Linked DNA regions of Homo sapiens: region 1 is linked to region 2. The links come from fine-mapping of genetic effects on gene expression. A gene starts in region 2. The other region holds a variant in brackets. All regions are shown on one strand. Distances are between the middles of the regions.

Evidence for each region. PIP is the estimated chance that this variant, and not a neighbour inherited with it, causes the effect.
Region 1: its variant is fine-mapped to the expression of GNB4 in caudate (GTEx, PIP 0.95).

Annotation. Positions count from the first base shown.
Region 1 is chr3:179,527,643-179,535,982 of GRCh38, reverse strand. It overlaps a transcript of GNB4 not described here. Among named protein-coding and RNA genes, the nearest start is that of ACTL6A, 31 kb to the left of the region's middle. The variant C/T (reference allele first, on the strand shown) is at 4,172.
Region 2 is chr3:179,446,777-179,455,116 of GRCh38, reverse strand. It overlaps GNB4 (G protein subunit beta 4), which reads left to right and starts at 3,647. Exons shown (of 10, transcript NM_021629.4): 1 at 3,647-3,771. It also overlaps the pseudogene RPL29P34. RefSeq lists silencers at 3,477-3,626, 3,667-4,076.

The DNA.
Region 1 (8,340 bases), 81 kb before region 2:
CGGGTGCAGTGGCTCACACCTATAATCCCAGCACTTTGGGAGGCCGAGGTGGGTGGATCACCTGAGGTCAGGAGTTCGAGACCAGCCTGGCCAACATGGTGAAACCCCGTCTCTACTAAAAATACAAAAATTAGCTGGGCGTGGTGGCACTCACCTGTAGTCCCAGCTACTTGGGAGGCTGAGGCAGGAGAATCGCTTGAACCTGGGAGACGGAGTTGCAGTGAGCCAAGATCATGCCACTGCACTCCAGCTGGGTGACAGAGTGAGATTCCGTCGCAAAAAAAAAAAAAAAAATTGTGTATATTTCCTGGTGGTTTCTCCCTGTTTCCCTCTCCTTCCCATACCTGATGCATCTATAGATATGCACAGCTACTGAGAGCCTCTGACCAGAGCTCAAACCATCACCCCCCTTGAGGTCCGACACAACATATCAGCATATCTGGAGTGTCTAAAGCTTAATTGCAAAGCAAGTACCACAACCCTGAGAGAAGAAAAGTCAAGAATGATGAGGGAGAACAAAAAGGGTCCTGAGAGTTTCAGGAAAATAGTAGCTTAGGACACTCTAGGAGAACTAAGCTTCTTTTGTTTGTTTGTTGACACAGTTTCCCTCTGTTGCTGAGGCTGGAATACAGTGGTGCCATCTTGGCTCACTGCAACCTCGGCCTCCCGGGTTCAAGCGATTCTCCTGCCTCAGCCTCCCGAGTAGCTGGGATTACAGGCGCACCACCACGCCTGGCTAATTTTTGTATTTTTGGTAGAGTCAGCATTTCACCATGTTGGCCAGGCTGGTCTCGAACTCCTGACCTCAAGTGATCCAACTGCCTCAGCCTCCCAAAGTGATGGGATTACAGGTGTGAGCTACTGTGCTCGGCCAGGAGAACTGTCTCTTGAAGAACGCTACCTTCACTGAGCCTCTACCCAGACACCACATGTTCCTGTTTTTCTTCTGCCACACAGACTCCCCTTTGGCAGAGCCCGCCTCTTCTTTCTGGCCTCTAAATATTACAGTGTCCTAGGAGGCAGTCCTCAAAGCTCTTCTTTTCTATCTATTCACACTCCCTAAGTGATCTCATCCAACCTCATTCAATCAGGAGCAGTGACTGCACCTAGAGAGGAACAGCTGTGGGGAGGTCTGTGTGATGGGAGCTGTGGCTTTGATCAAGGGACTCAGGCAATCTTCAGCGAGGGAGCTGGGGGAATACACCACCTCACTTGCTCTTTTTTTCGGATCTGCCCCAAGGCTGGCTGAATCCAGCTGGAAACCAGGGGTTGGAGTTCATTGACTTAATCCATGCAGGTCAGGCTGTGTGAAGGTAAACAGCAGAGTGGAGAGGCATGGAGTGAGAATAAGGAAGGCTGCAAAGACATGCAGCACACTTTCGATATGCTGAAGACTCCCTCATTTGTGTATTTCCAGCCCTAACCTTTCCGGTGGAATCCCAATGGCCTGCTTGGCCATCTCCTCCTGAATATTCACTTGATTGTCCCATCCCCCAGCCTGGTCCGCCTCCCCTTCCTTCCACACTCTCCTCCCAATTTCACCACCATTCACACAGTTGTTTAGGCCCAAACCTACCTTCCATCCCCGAATCCTTTCTCTTATAACCAACCCATGAGCAAGTTATGCCAGTGCCACTTTTAAGAAATGTCCAGAATCTGGATATTTCTCACCACACCCACTGCTTCCACCCTAGTCCATGCCCACATTGTCTCTTGCTTGTATGAGGGCAGTAACTTCCTAACTCCCACTTCTACCCTTGCCCCCAGTATGGTCTATTCTACCTTGGCCCCATGAGGTCTACACAGCAGCCAGAGTGATCCTTCTCCAGCTACTCTTTAACCCCTTACCTTGTTTTAATTTTCTTTCCAGCAAGTAACTCCACGTAAATACCTATTATATGTTTATTCATGTATTTGTTTATTGTTGTTTCTTCCATTAAAATGTAGGTTCCATGATGGCAGGAATCTTCTTTTCTACCAAGTTTTCCCCTCAGTTGAACAGACTAATTGTTTAATGGAAAATGAATATAACTTTTTAAAACACACTGTCAAGAGGATGAGAAGACAAGCTTCAGACTGGTAGAAAATATTTGCAATAGATATATGTGATAAAGGACTATTAACTAAAATACAAAGAACTCTTAAAACTCAATAATAAGAAAACAAATAACCTGATTAAAAAATGGCAAGAGACCTGAACAGATACCTCACCAAAGAAGATATACAGAGGCAAGTAAGTATATGGAAAGGAGCTCAATATCATATGTCATTAGAGAAATGCAAATTAAAACAACAATGATGAGATTCTACCACACAGCTATTGGAATGGCCAAAATCCAAAACACTGACATCTCCAAAGGCTGACAAGGATGTGGAACAACAGGAGCTCTCATTCATTGTTGGCGGGAATGAAAAATGGTACAGCTACTTTGGAAGAGCGTTTGGCAACTTCTTACAAAACTAAACCTACTGTTACCATATAATCCAGCAATCATGTTCCTTGGTATTTACTCAAATGAGTTGAAACCTTACGTCCACATAAAAACCTGCACATGAATGTTTATAGCAGCTTTATTCACAATTGCCAAAAATTGGAAGCAATCAAGATGTCCTTCAGTAGCTGAATAAATAAACTGTAGGACGTCCAGATAAGGGGATGCTAAAAAGAAATGCAAAAAAGTGCTACAAAGAAATGAGCTATCAAACCATGAAAAACATGGGAAAAGCTTTAAATGCCTATTGCTAAGTGAAAGAAGTCAATCTGAAAACCTATATCACAGGTTCAATTCTGTGATATAAAGCAACACATCACAAAGCGTTTTTACAGATAGCTTGTTTCTAGTTTTTAGGGCTGGATATTCATATTTTCTTATAAAAGGTCAATAGGTTCGGAAACGTCACTTCTTAGATTCTAAAAAAAGAGTGTTCCGAACTTGTTAAATGCAAATTCAACTACGATTTCAACTATGTGATCTCTGGAAAAGGTAAAACTATTGAGACAATAAAAAGATCAGTGGTTCCCAGGGGAAGGTTTGATTTCAACTATATGATCTCTAGAAAAGGTAAAACTATTGAGACAGTAAAGATCAGTGGTTACCAGGGGAAGGAGGGATGAATGGCAAAGCACTGAGAATTTTAAGGCAATGAAACTTCTGTAGGATTCTACCATGGTGGATGTATATCATTATATATTTGTTCAAACCCATAGCATGTAAAACACCAAGACTGAACACTAATGTAAGCTATGGACTATATCAATGTAGGTTCAGTGGTTGTAACAAATATACCACTCTGGTGTGGGATGTTGACAGTGGGGGAGGCTGTACATGGTGTTGGTGCAGGGGGCGTATGGGAATTCTATGTACTTTCTGTTCAGTTTTGCTATGAACCTAAAACACCTCTAGAAAGTAAACTCCCTTTCAAAAAAGAAAAAGATAATATGTGTGGAGACCCTAGAGAAAAAAAAGGACCATAAATCTAGAAAAACTAGCCCACTACACTCTGAGACTAACCATTTGTCAAAACAGCAAATGTACACTTAAGATTTGTACATTTCATTGTAGATGTTATATGTAGATGTTATAACAAAAGAAAACCTATAAACAAATACTGAATTCTAGTTGTGATATGCATGCTGAAATATTTACAGGGGAAGTGAACTCATGTCTGCAATTTATTTGAAATGCATCAAAAGTGGATGGATTAAGATATAGATAAAAGAATAGATGGATGGATGGATGGATGCATGGTAGACAGACAGACATATGATAAGGCCAGTTGAGTATATTGAAAATAGAAGAATCTGGGTGATGAGTATATTGGTTGTTCACTGTAAAATTCTTTCAACTTGCTATCTGTCTGAATTTTTTCATAATAAAATATTGGGATAAACTATATTCAAAACAAGGGTGCAGCTTCCACTTGTTTTTGAGATATATTAGTGCCAAACATTTTAATGACCTTGGCAGTTATGGTGGGACAGAACACTTAAGCTAATAACTGAATCGTCACCTTGCTTAAATTAAAAACTCAAAGAAGTTTTTTCAGACCTCCAAGTCCTTAAACAGTTTATGAAGAATGTTTGTGAAATGGAAGATTGCTTATGCTCATCTTAAAGCCACTTAGTGCTGGCACAAGCCTCAGTCCTCAGAATCATCTATAATGCATGCAC[C/T]GTGTGCCCTCAGCAGTGTTTTTTCTCTTTTCTTGACGTCAGTTGCCATTTGTAAGGGTTTCCAAGGTAGTGACCAGACACATCTAAAGGCAAGCCTACAAGAAAGAACAACATACTTATTTTTCCCTTTTAGCCTCAAATATATTTAAAATGCATAACACATTCAGTTTGATGAAATTCTACTTCAGAGAGAACCAAACTTCACAGTACAGAAAAGAGCTCCCTACTCTTGTCTCTGCAGCTCCGCTTTTAATGACTGGATTTGTTTAAAAAAAAAAAAAACTATGTAGACTTCTCTTTACACCACAGTTTCCCTCTGCCCCCAGGGAAAAAATGTGAGAAGGTGCTAGGTATATTTTAAAAATAATTTTGGTAAAGTCAGTAGAAAGACCTAGTTTACCTCAAAAGTCAGCATGGGAAAAATTTGGATCTGTTCAAAATAGGAATATATCATGTTCCTTGGAAAGTATGTGATTTTTAAAAATTAATTAAGACATAATACTTAGGCCTATCAATCGGTATGGTTAATTGACATATTTCTACCTGGACAGATGTTACATTGTATGAGTTGTATATTTTATATAAATAAAAGGTAAGTTTGGCTAGGTGTGGTGGCCCGTGCCTGTAATCCTAACACTTTGGGAGGCTAAGGCAGGAGGATCTTTTGAGCCCAGGAGTTCAAGACTAATCTGGGCAACATAGGGAGACCCCCATCTCTACAAAAAAATTAAAAATAAAAAAATTAGCCAGACCTGGTGGTGCATACCTGTAGTCCCAGCTACTGTGGTGGGAGGATCACCTGAGTCCAGGGGGTTCAAAGCTTCAGTGAGCCATGATTGCGTCACTGCACTCCAGCCTGGGCAACAGAGTAAGACTCTGTCTTAAAGATAGATAAATAAATAAATAAGGGTAAGTTTTATAACTGTACACATTTAACATGTATGTTTTTATTTGTGGCAGCAATAAATAAACCATTATGGATCAAGGAGGAACCCCATCACAGTTTTTAAACCTACACTCAAGCCAGGTTGAGTAATGTGGTGCTTACAGTCCCAGTTACTTGGGAGGCCGAGGTGGGAGGATTGCTTGAGAACAGGAGTTGGAGGCCAGCCTGGGCAACATAGCAAGACTCTGTACTTTTCTGTTTATTTATTTATTTATTTTAGAAATGGGATCTGCTATCTTGTTGTTTAAAAACAACAACACAACAACAAGGAAATAAATTCATTTGGCCCATCGCCATCCTATTTAAGCTTCTGATTTTTTTTTTCTTTTAAGAGACAAGGTTGGAGTGCAGTGGTGTATCACAGCTCACTGCAACCTCAAACTTCTGGGCTCAAGAAATCCTCTTGCTTCTGCCTTCCAAGTATTTGGGACTACAGGCGTGCACCACCATGCCCAGCTAATTTGTTTTTTTACTTTTAGTAGAAACAAGATCTTGCTATGTTGCCCAGGCTGGTCTTTAACTTCTGGCCTCAAGCAATCCTCCCCTGTTGGCTTCCCAAAGTGCTGGAATTAAAGGTGGGAGCCACTGAGGCCGGCCAGTTTCTGATTTTTTTAAAAAACTTTCAATTGATTAATTTATTTTGGGGGGAAATCTCACTGTGTTGCTCAAGCTGGTCTGAACTCCTGGGCTCAAGGAATCCTCCTGCCTCAGGCTCCCAAGGAGCTGGAATTACAGGTGTAGCCGCTATGCCTGGTTTAAGCTTCTAATTTTCATGCGCACTCATTTAACTAAGATATATTAAATGCTTTCTGTTTTTCAGGTGTTATGCTGACAATAGGTAGCTGAGTATGTGCCTCTTCTCCAGGGACTTGCAATCTAGTTGGAAAGACGGCATGTAAATAACTTTTTAGGGATATGTGACAAGCAGTCCATTTGGGCTGCTGTAATAAAATACCTTAGATTGGGTGATTTATAAATAACAGAAATTTTCTTCTCACAGCATTGAACATTGAACGGGCCATACTAACAAGTGCTGCGAGAAGCCTTTGATTCTGCCTGGAAAGATCTGGAAAGGCCAAACCCCTGTCCTCAGTTCCTTGTAGAGACAACAGGGTAATCTTTTTTTTTTTTTTTTTTTTTGAGACAGAGTTTTGCTCTCATCACCCAGGCTAGAGTGCAATGGTGCAATCTCGGCTCACTGCAACTTCTGCCTCCCGGGTTCAAGCGATTCTCCTGCCTCAGCCTCCCAAGTAGCTGGGATTACAGGCACGTGCCACCATGCCCGGCTAATTTTGTATTTTTAGTAGAGATGGGGTTTCTCCATGTTGGTCAGGCTGGTCTCAAGCTCCTGACCTCAGGTGATTTGCCCGCCTCGGCCTCCCAAAGTGCTGGGATTATAGGTGTGAGCCACCGCGTCTGGCCTAGCAGCAGGGTAATCTTTGTACCGGGGTTGGAAACTGGTAGCCTACGGACTATATCAGGATTCAAAACTCATTTTGTTTGGTCTACATAGGATTTTGAAAATCCGAGAATATCTTATATAAAAATTCAGATTTGTGGAGTTTTCTGAAAAGTTGCAAGATCTGGCAATTCTGGGCTACAATCAACTGGATCTAGACAAGCTGCTTTCAGTTTGTTTTATAACCAAACTGCATGACCACTGACTAATTATATTGCCTTTCAGCAGTTGACCTTCTGTCCCGTTAAGTGGGATTGATAATACCACGTTTGCGTTTTTTGAAAGTGGATTCTGTAAGAGCAGGGAGTGGAGCAGTATTTCTCAAAATGTGGTCTACAGCTACCTTTGTCAGTATCATGTACAACAGTTCTTCCCAACATTTACTGTGGGTATGAATCACCTGGCTATTCTGCAGACTGTGCTCTTTCAAAGTCATACAGTGCATCATTCAACAAAGGAGTCACTAGTCACATGTGACTACTTCAGTTTAAATTAATTCACATTCAACTCCTCAGCATACTAGTCACATTTCAAATGCTCAACAGCTACATGTTCCTGTGGCTACATCACTGGACAGTGCAATAGAACATTTCCATCATCACAGAAAGCTTCATTCGATAGTGCTGTACACAACATTGTCTCAGTCCTTAATGCCTGCCATCACAAAATACCTTAGACTGAGTAACTTATAAACAACAAAAATGTATTTCTCACAGTTCTATAGGCTGGAAAGTCCAAGATCAAGGCACTGGCAGATTCAGTATCTAGAAGACACCTGCTCAGAGTATCCTTACAGGGTGGAAGGGGAAAAGCAGCTCCCTGGGACCCTCTTTTATAAACGTACTAATCCCATTCATGATGGCTTTCCCCTGGTGACCTAATCACCTCCCAAAGACTTTATCTCCTAATAACCATCACATTGGTGATTTCAAAACAAGAATTTTGAGGGGATGACATTCAGGCCATAGCAAACATTGTCTAAGTCCACCTGAAACCACTCATCACCTAGGGATGTCATTTTGTTTGATCTACTATGCTTTATTGATTAGGGTTGATTGTCTTTAAAATTAGATGTGGACATTTAGAAAATTAATCAGTCACAATTGGTTTTTTGTCATATAGAGAGTCAAATGCTTTATGTCCAATAAAAAAGAATCTTAAAGGTTTTTGTTTGTTTTTTTGTTTTTTGTTTTTTTGAGATGGAGTCTCACTCTGTTGCCCAGGCTGGAGTGCAGTGGCACGATCTCGGCTCACCACAAGCTCCGCCTCCTGGGTTCACGCCATTCTCCTGCCTCAGCCTCCTGAGTAGCTGGGACTACAGGTGCGTGTCACCATGCCTGGCTAATTTTTTGTATTTTTAGTAGAGACGGGGTTTCACCATGTTAGCCAGGATGGTCTCGATCGCCTGACCTCATGATCCACCTGCCTCAGCCTCCCAAAGTGCTGGGATTACGGGTGTGAGCCACTGCGCCTGGCCAAGATTTCGATTTTATTGCTCTGTGGGACATTAGTCAGTTCTCTGTTCTCTATATAACTCTGCAATTTTATCTAGCATTCTTTTCTTCTACTGGTGACATGTACACACACACACACACACACACACACACACACACACATACATACACACACGCACTTATCAGCAATCTTCTATCCTCCTCTTTAAACCAGCTGGTTTTGTCACAAATGAAGTAGGTAAGTCTTAGACTATATATTTGTATGAAAATCATGTTTTAACTTTTTGAAATTTGTATTTTGATAGGAGCA
Region 2 (8,340 bases):
ATAAACAAAAGCTATAACTGATTTGTACCACCAGTGTCAGAGGAGTACAGCAAAGGTGACTCAAAGTACAAACTGTACTTTGATATGGAAAATGCATTGTGTGTGAGCAAGAGGGAAGGCTTTAGGCATGACTACTCTGTATCAAGGATGTCTGTCTGAAACCACACATAGACTGACTTCTTACAGAATCTACTAGGGAATTGCTTCTCATGTCCTTGGGAAACTGTGCTGTAGATCCTGTTAGATAATTTCCATTTAATATTTTATAACTTATTTTGTTGTGGGTGAAATAAAATCTGTTACGGTAGTTGTGATGTTGTATGTATATAATTTGGCCTCATTTCAAACACAATAGAATTGGAATGCATACAACACATACAGGGCGGTACTGAAATATTGTACACTTTAATAGCTGTGTTCTTCACGGTGTGCTTGGCATCGTCTGAGAGCAAGGTAGGCTCAGAAAAAAATATAGACCATTTCTAGGGTAAAACTTAAAAGCAGGATATACAAACCTATGGCACTATGGATTACAGGGTAGCTCACTGAGTACAGCATTCAGATTCATCCAATGTAGGACCAAGAGCAGAGCTTCTCTGAACTTGATCATAGTGAAGCAAAACACCCTGCAAAAGAAACTGTAACTAAACTCCTAGAAAAGCAATGACCACTTTCTCCTCTCCTATGATTCTGACTAGCGTGTGGGATGGGGTGAGGTATGCAGGTTATTTGCATAAAACAAGCAGCCAAGTGCATTCACTCATTTATTTGTTCGTGGAGTACCTAGCAAATGCAAGGTGCTCTGTTAAACACTATGGCAGACACAAAGATGAAACGGACAAGGATTTTGTCTTCAAAGGTTCTCTAGTAGGGACCCCACTATGCTCTCTTAATAGAGTAGGATTTGAGAACATGGGCCTAATGAGTTAGAAATCTAATTATCAGCCAGTGGCACCCAAACAAAAGATCATGGGGCTTAATCCTCAGAAGTAGGATACATCTCTACAATTGTCTACACAAACCAGCAGGCATCAGAAATGTTAATAGCATACCCCTTCACCTTTCTCTCTGCCTCCCTTCCCAGTCTCTCTCTTTTGTTCTTCGTGGATTTCATTATCATTGGAAAAATCATGAATTGCTGGATCACTTAGATGCATTAGTGTGCTCTTATGAAATCATTCCTGATGACAAAATTCTTTTAATCAGCTCCACTTTCAGATTTTCAGTATAGGCTTGTCCTTTAACAAGTAAGTTTTTTTTTTTTTTTCCAGAACAATATGGAGCAGGTATGGCAAAACAGAAATACAATATTCTTGGAAGTAGATTCGTTTGGATAATAATTAAACTTTCCTTTTTCTGTACTTGGACTTTATTCTTCTAGTAATTTCTTTGTCTACATTAAATTTTCAGGAAGATTGACGATATCATTCTTTTAAACTCTTTAAAAGACAGTCAAATTCTTGTTACATCTTTTCAGGTTTTGTATTTTATGTTTAGGAGCTGTTCATTTATATTTCCCCTCATCTTTTCTGGAATAGACTATCTCATTGCTTCCCACTGTGTTTTCCTAAATACCAGCAACTTGTTTTTCAACAAATAATCTTAACCCAACAACCAGCTCTCAAAGCTTTATAACATCTGGTAAATGCTAGTGCACAGGAACAAGGCAGAAAAGAATCTAAAGAAAGAATATGGGGCCGGGATCGGTGGCTCACGCCTGTAATTCCAGCACTTTGGGAGGCCGAGGTGGGCGGATCACCTGAGGTCAGCAGATTGAGACCAGCCTGGTCAACACGGTGAAACCCCGTGTCTACTAAAAATACAAAAAATCAGCCGGGCGTGGTGGCTTGTGCCTGTAATCCCAGACTTGGGAGGCTGAGACACGAGAATCGCTTGAATCCTGGAGGTGGAGGTTGCAGTGAGCTGACATCACATCACTGCACAGTGACTCCGTCTCAAAACAAAAAAACAAACAAAAAAAAGAAAGAATGTGGGCTTTGGAGTTGATCCAATCTGATGTCATGCAGGGCTCTACCAATACCTTCGTGACTCCGATAAATTAATCTTACCAGGGCATCAGTTTGCTTATCTGTAAAATGGGGATAAAATTCACACTTCAAGGTAATTATGAGGATTAAGTACAGTATAAGAAAGCAGAGAGCATGGTCCGTAATAGGCACTCTTTAACAATTTCCCTTTGCTTCCTCCGAAAAACGACAATCATAAAACTCAGGATTTAATCATTAAAACATAAATAGTTACAGATGCAAAACACTCATGTCCCAACGAGCTCTTCTGACACTTTGATATGCAGAATATTTGGCATTTCTTTCTTCTTAATGGAAAAATGCTCCTAATATTAGTAAAAATGAAAATTTTGGGGGAAAAATTATCCACAGTTTCTTTATCTGTGGATAAAGAAAATAGAAACAGCTGCTTCTATTTTTGTCACGGCCTGGCTTTTATACAAAACGGTCACATTTTCCCCACAGTCACAAACAGGGTGTGTTTATCATGGCATCACCTCTTTCAAGGGACTAATAGATTTATTCCAGGTGATAGTGGGAAGCAGCTACAGAAGGAGGATTGGAAGGCTGAGGGGTTGTTAAAGTTATCTGATGATATTGTTCGAACATTTCTCCGGCACAGAAACTCCACAAAGAACTCCTCTGCAGTTTTCGCTACCCAGGGCTGTTTCTTTAAATTGTTTGACGTCAGAGAAGGAATGCTATAGCAACAGTCTGTCAAACTGGAATTAACTCAGAAGAAAAATGGGGGTGGGGAGAGGAAAAATGCTCCCAGGCGGTACTGACTTCAGAGGAAGCAAATTGGATAGATGCATTTATTTTATGACATTTTAAACATAAAACACCCAGATAAATGTGAAAAAAAAAAAAACTCGATTGAGATGCATGTGGTGTTTAACTCATGCAGAGAAGAGCGACTTGGCAGGGATATCTGGAAGGCCTTCCAGTTTTATCAATGACAATAGGAACAATAACTTCCAAGTATTGGCCATTTATTTGGAGGCAGGCTTCGTGCAAACATCACTTCATTTAATATGCTTAGCACCTTTATGAGGCAGGTATCAGTATCTTTATTTTGGCGATGACGAAACTTAGGCCCGAGACGGTACACGGTCCTACAACTAGTGATGGAAGAGCGGGGACTGCAACGCAAGGTTGTGCAACTCTGGGCTTCAGTTTACTTTCTGACATTTAGAATTCCAGAATGGGAAACCTAAATGGGGCCTTTGGGGTCTTCTAGCTCTGCCCTTCGATCCTGCTAACAAGCAAACTGGCGCCTGTCAGCGCCGGAAAGGAAACTGGCCACGCCACTTAGACGGGCGCTACTTAGCAGCGTGCCCCGGCGCCACACCAACAAGAAAACGAAACTGCCCGGGAATGAATGTTTTTCTTCTCCTTCTGGCAGGAAACGAGAGAGAAAATAGGAAGCAGAAGCTGCGCGCGGCGCCCGCTCCCTTCGCCCCCCGCCCGGGCTGCGCGCGCTCCGAGGGTCTGCGCGTCCCCGGCACGTCCCCGCCGGGCCCGCGCGCCTCGTGCCTCGCGCCTCGCGCCTCCAGCCACGTCCCCGCCCCGGCTCCGGCGCGCCGCGGAGTTGGCTGCTGGGAGGTGCGGGACTGGGTGTGGCCGGCGGCTCTGGTCTCGGCTGTGAGCTGCGCTCTCCACGCCGGCTCCGCGCTCCAGGGGCTGCTGAGCGCCCAGCGGACACCGGCAGCGCGCGGTCGACGCGGGCCTGAGCTCCCTCCAGGTAGGCGGCGAGCTCGCGAGCGGCGGCTCGTCGGTGCGCCCCGCGAAGCGATCCCGGGCTTCTCGCAGGGACGTGGGGCGCCGCGAGCCACCCCTGCGGAACGGGGCCCGGGTGACGGCGCGGGGCGGGGCGGGTCTCCCCGGGCTCGGGCGGCCGACGCTGCCCGGGAGGGACGAGGAGGGCGCGCCTGTGTCGCGCCCAGCTGCCACGCGGGAACTGGCCCCACGACCGCCGGCGCAGGCACTTCCCGGGCGGTCCAGACCGCTCGCCCCGGGGAGCGAGGAACGGTCGGCGGTCCAAGTCCTGCAGACCCCCCTGGTTTCTCGTCACTCCCCGAGGCCTCCTTCCAGGAACTCAGAGCACGAGCCCGTGCGTGCCCCCAAAATAACGGGTATTCGGGACTGCCCAGCAGGGCTGTTGGGTGGAGAGTGCTTGGAAGACTCATAAAAGTTCTACGCTGAGTCCAAAATTAGTCCAATGGTTTTGTTTCAGATTTATTTTGGAAATGATATAATGTCCAGAGTTTGGGGATGGGAGGGGATTGATGAATTTTGAATACTTGTGAGTTCAGTACAATAAAAAGTGTTTTGCTTTTCTCTCCACCTTTTTCTGCTTCAGAACACAGATGATTGCCATATACTTTGATATGTATTGCTATTCGCTAAGGGAACGTTGAATTTTCAAAAGTTTGAAACCAGGCTTTCATTTGTTTATACAAGCAATACTTTGTTATTTTTCGTCTCCTTGTGTTCCCTTTTCTCCCACTCCTTCCCTTTCTCTTTCCATAAAGGATAAGGATGCATCTTTCTCCCTCTCAGCCACCGACAAAGTAGCTTGGCGTGTGGCTTAGCGGGAAGTTTTCTTAAAACGTTCAAAATTTAATTGTTGATTAGAACTTTTATTATGAGTCCGTCTCAGTGTTGCAAACAGAGTTTATGACCATTAAGTACATCTTCTAGGACAGAGACAGAACACACGCTACTTAATTTAAGATGGGAGGGAAGTTATTTCTAGTCGGAGAGGAGGACGGCTGATTAGGTGCATTCAAAATTGTGTGCTTCGAGTCTCTGCCATTGTTCATTTTAATACTCTTCAGTTTGGGGCTTTTGGTTTACTACTGATCCTAGGCTCTGAAAATTTACTGTATATTTCAGTATGTGGCTTAAAGACATTTTAAGATTTTCCATGTTGCATTTTGGTTTGTAGATGAATTTGAAACTGAAATAGAAACTTTTAAAATATCATCTTATTGAACGTTGTCAACCCTCTGTATATACATTTATAAAACTGATTGATACAGCTTGTGATATTTTAGGTTGGTTCAACTCTTTGTGGGCCCATAAACATTATTTAGGAAGTTATTCCGAGTCTTTGGCCTTTGTTAACCTGTAGAATTGTTTCTTTTAAACAATTGGCATGTAAGTATGTCAGCACATACTTTTACACTTTAAAAATAGACTCTGGGGCAATTTGAAAATTAAGAATTGGAACTAAGTGTTGGACATTCTTCTGGCCTTACCAAATACTGCCTGAGATGGTGTGATTTCTCTTAGGCATGTTATTGAAGTCAGCTGGCTGTATCATCAGTTTCTTTACCTTGCTGACTATTTTAATCTGCGTCTGTTATGGACTTATTTATTAAAATATCTCTTCTGGGCTGGGGCAGTGCTGTAAGTTATTCTACTTATATCTCACAGTAACACCATTATCTACTTCCACAGGTAAGGAAATTGTCTGTGAGGTTTTAAGTAACTTGGCAGTGGTCATGTAGGTGTTAGGTAACTCAACTGGGATTCGAAGCAAGACCCCTCTGTTTCCAAAGTCCATGTTCTTTCCCCTGAGCCATATTAACTTAGTTCGAGGGCATGAGGAGTGACCCTCAATTACTCATTAGCATGTGTGTAAAATATCCAAGACATGCCAGAAGCATGTTTGTTTTTCCAGCATGATCATTATTGTCTGTCCCATGTTTTTATACAGCTTCTCACATCAGCCATTCTCTTCTCACCACTCTACTCCTAGTTAAATGTCTTGTTCCAAGTTCAAAACCTCCCTTTTGCCAGGGCACAGTGTATCCTATTGATATTAATAGGTAGTGATGGCTTAATTATCTTGATAAAACAGTAACTCCATTTTAATGTGGGTTCTCTAGAGATAGAGTTATAACTAATTTGGAAGGTTACAAACAGGATTGCGGTCAATTTTGGGATATGAGAACCCTTTGATATCCCTCAAATTAAACTAGAGGATATTTTGATGGATATTTCCCTCTGCAATTTATCATACTCTCTCCTGCACCTTCAATTTGTCAGTTACTACAGAATCATTTACATTATTGTACAGTCTGCCATTTTAAAATAAAATGGTTTCTTGATCCAGTGTTCTGCTTCAGTGACTGCCTCATTTCTTTTTATTTATTTATTTTTATAAATAGAAGCGGGATCTCGCTGTGTTGCCCAGGCTGGTCTTGAACTCTTGGGCTCAAGCAGTCCACCCACCTCAGCCTCCCAAAGTGTTAGGATTACAGGCGTGAGCCACGGCGTCTGGCCCTGCCTCATTTCTCTACCTCACCTTGAGGAAGCGTAGTTTTTTGACAGAACAAAAAATAAATACAGGAGTGAGAACCAGAAACTAATTAGTTACCTACAGGCACCGGGTAGGAACTGAGTAAATGGGAACAACAGAAGGAATGGCCTTGTTCTGAATGTACTTTTTTGCATAGTTTTGAGTTTTGGAAACTGTTAGTCTTTTTTATGTTCAAAAATAAAATTAACAAGATGTGGAGAGTGGGACTCCAAAACAATACAAACAGCAACAACAAACCGTGTATTTATGTGAATAATATAAACTCCCAGAAGAAAAAAAAAAAAACCAAGTAAGTTTTGAGCACAGGATTAAAGATTAAAGAACTGAAAAAATAATCTTGAACTCTGTGTAGTAGGCTATTATTTGTATGGTAGAGGTGTAGCAATTCTGAAACTATTTTGTGTGCATTATAGGATTGAGCAAATGAGTAAATTCATTGATATTTTGGGAACTAGGGTTTCCAACGTGGAAGAAGAGAAATGAAAACATGAAACAGGCCAGGCGCGGTGGCTCACACCTGTAATCCCAGCACTGGGAGAAATGAAAAGTTAAAAATAAAACTTCAAACAATAACAATGCAGCTTTGCTTCAAAAAGAAAATCTTTGAAGGGACTCCATGTAGGCTGTCTCTACTCCTTATCTGCCATCTTCTTCTGAACCCGCTTCAGAGACACATTATCCCTCCTACTCCATGAAACAATTCTTCTCCAGGTCACCAGGGATGTCAGTCTTGCCAAACTGGATCTTCAGCCACATTTGACACAGGCAACAGATAACTCCTTCCCTATCAAAATGTCGTTTCCCCTTGGCTTCTGGGACACCGCTCTTTCTGATTTTCATCCTGCCTCATTGGCTACAGTTTCTCATTCTTCTCCATCTCAGTCAATGGTACCACCATCCACCAGTTGCTGAGGCTAAAAATTCTAATTCCCCATTTCACTCATTCTAAATCTATTCCTTCAACAGCAAGTATTATGGGCTCTACCTTCAAAATCACTGCAGATTGGACCATCTTTTTTAAAAAGTTAATTTGACCATTCCTATCACCTGCACTGCCACCACCACCACCCTGGTGTCAAACTGTATTCTTCCCTGGCCTGGATGACTGCAGGAGCCCCCCAACTGGTTTGTCAGCTTCCACTCTCTGTCTCCCACCAGCCAGCATGAACTTTAAAAGAGGTAAATCAAAGCAGGTTATATCTCAGTCGTCAGAACCCATTATTGTTAGATAAAATAAAAACGTTTTAGCCAGGCGTGGTGGTGCATATCTGTGGTCTCAGCTACATGGGAGTCTGAGGCGGGAGGATTGCTTGAGTCCAGGAGGTCAAAGTTGCAGTGAGCCATGTTTGTGCCTGGGCAATAGAGTGAGACCCCATCTGAAAAAAAATCAGGATTTTTTTTTTTTTTTTTTTTAATACCATGATCAAGAGACGGTGACTGGGCTCTGGCACACCCTTCTAGTCTCATCTGCTGCTCTCTGCCCTGCTCACTCTCTTCCAGCCTCGCCATCGTCACTGCTGTAGGTCCAGCATGTCAGGTTAGTTTCTGCCTGGGCCTTTGCTTGCTGTTCTGCCTGTAATGCTTTCTCCCAATGAAGACATAGCTCATCCTCTCATTTCATTCAGTCCTTACTTAATTTATTTGAAAATAGCCTTCCTCGTCACCCTCTAACCTCTTGAAGTTCTTGCAGTTTTTTTCTTGCATACGACTTATCTGTACTTAAAATTATGTTATTGATGTGCTGTATTATTTATCTCCTAGACAGATACAGAACAAAGCACTGTGGCAATAGGAAGTTTTGTTTTGTTTACTACCGAATCTCTAGAGCCTAGAATATGTTTGGCACATGGTCGGGACTCAGATATTTGTTGAATGAAGGAATGAATGCATGAATTAATATTTGTTGTATCTTAGCTAATGCCGTTTCAAATGGAGAAGACGGTTTCCAGAGAATCTTACAGCGTTAGTGCTACGTAAGGTGTT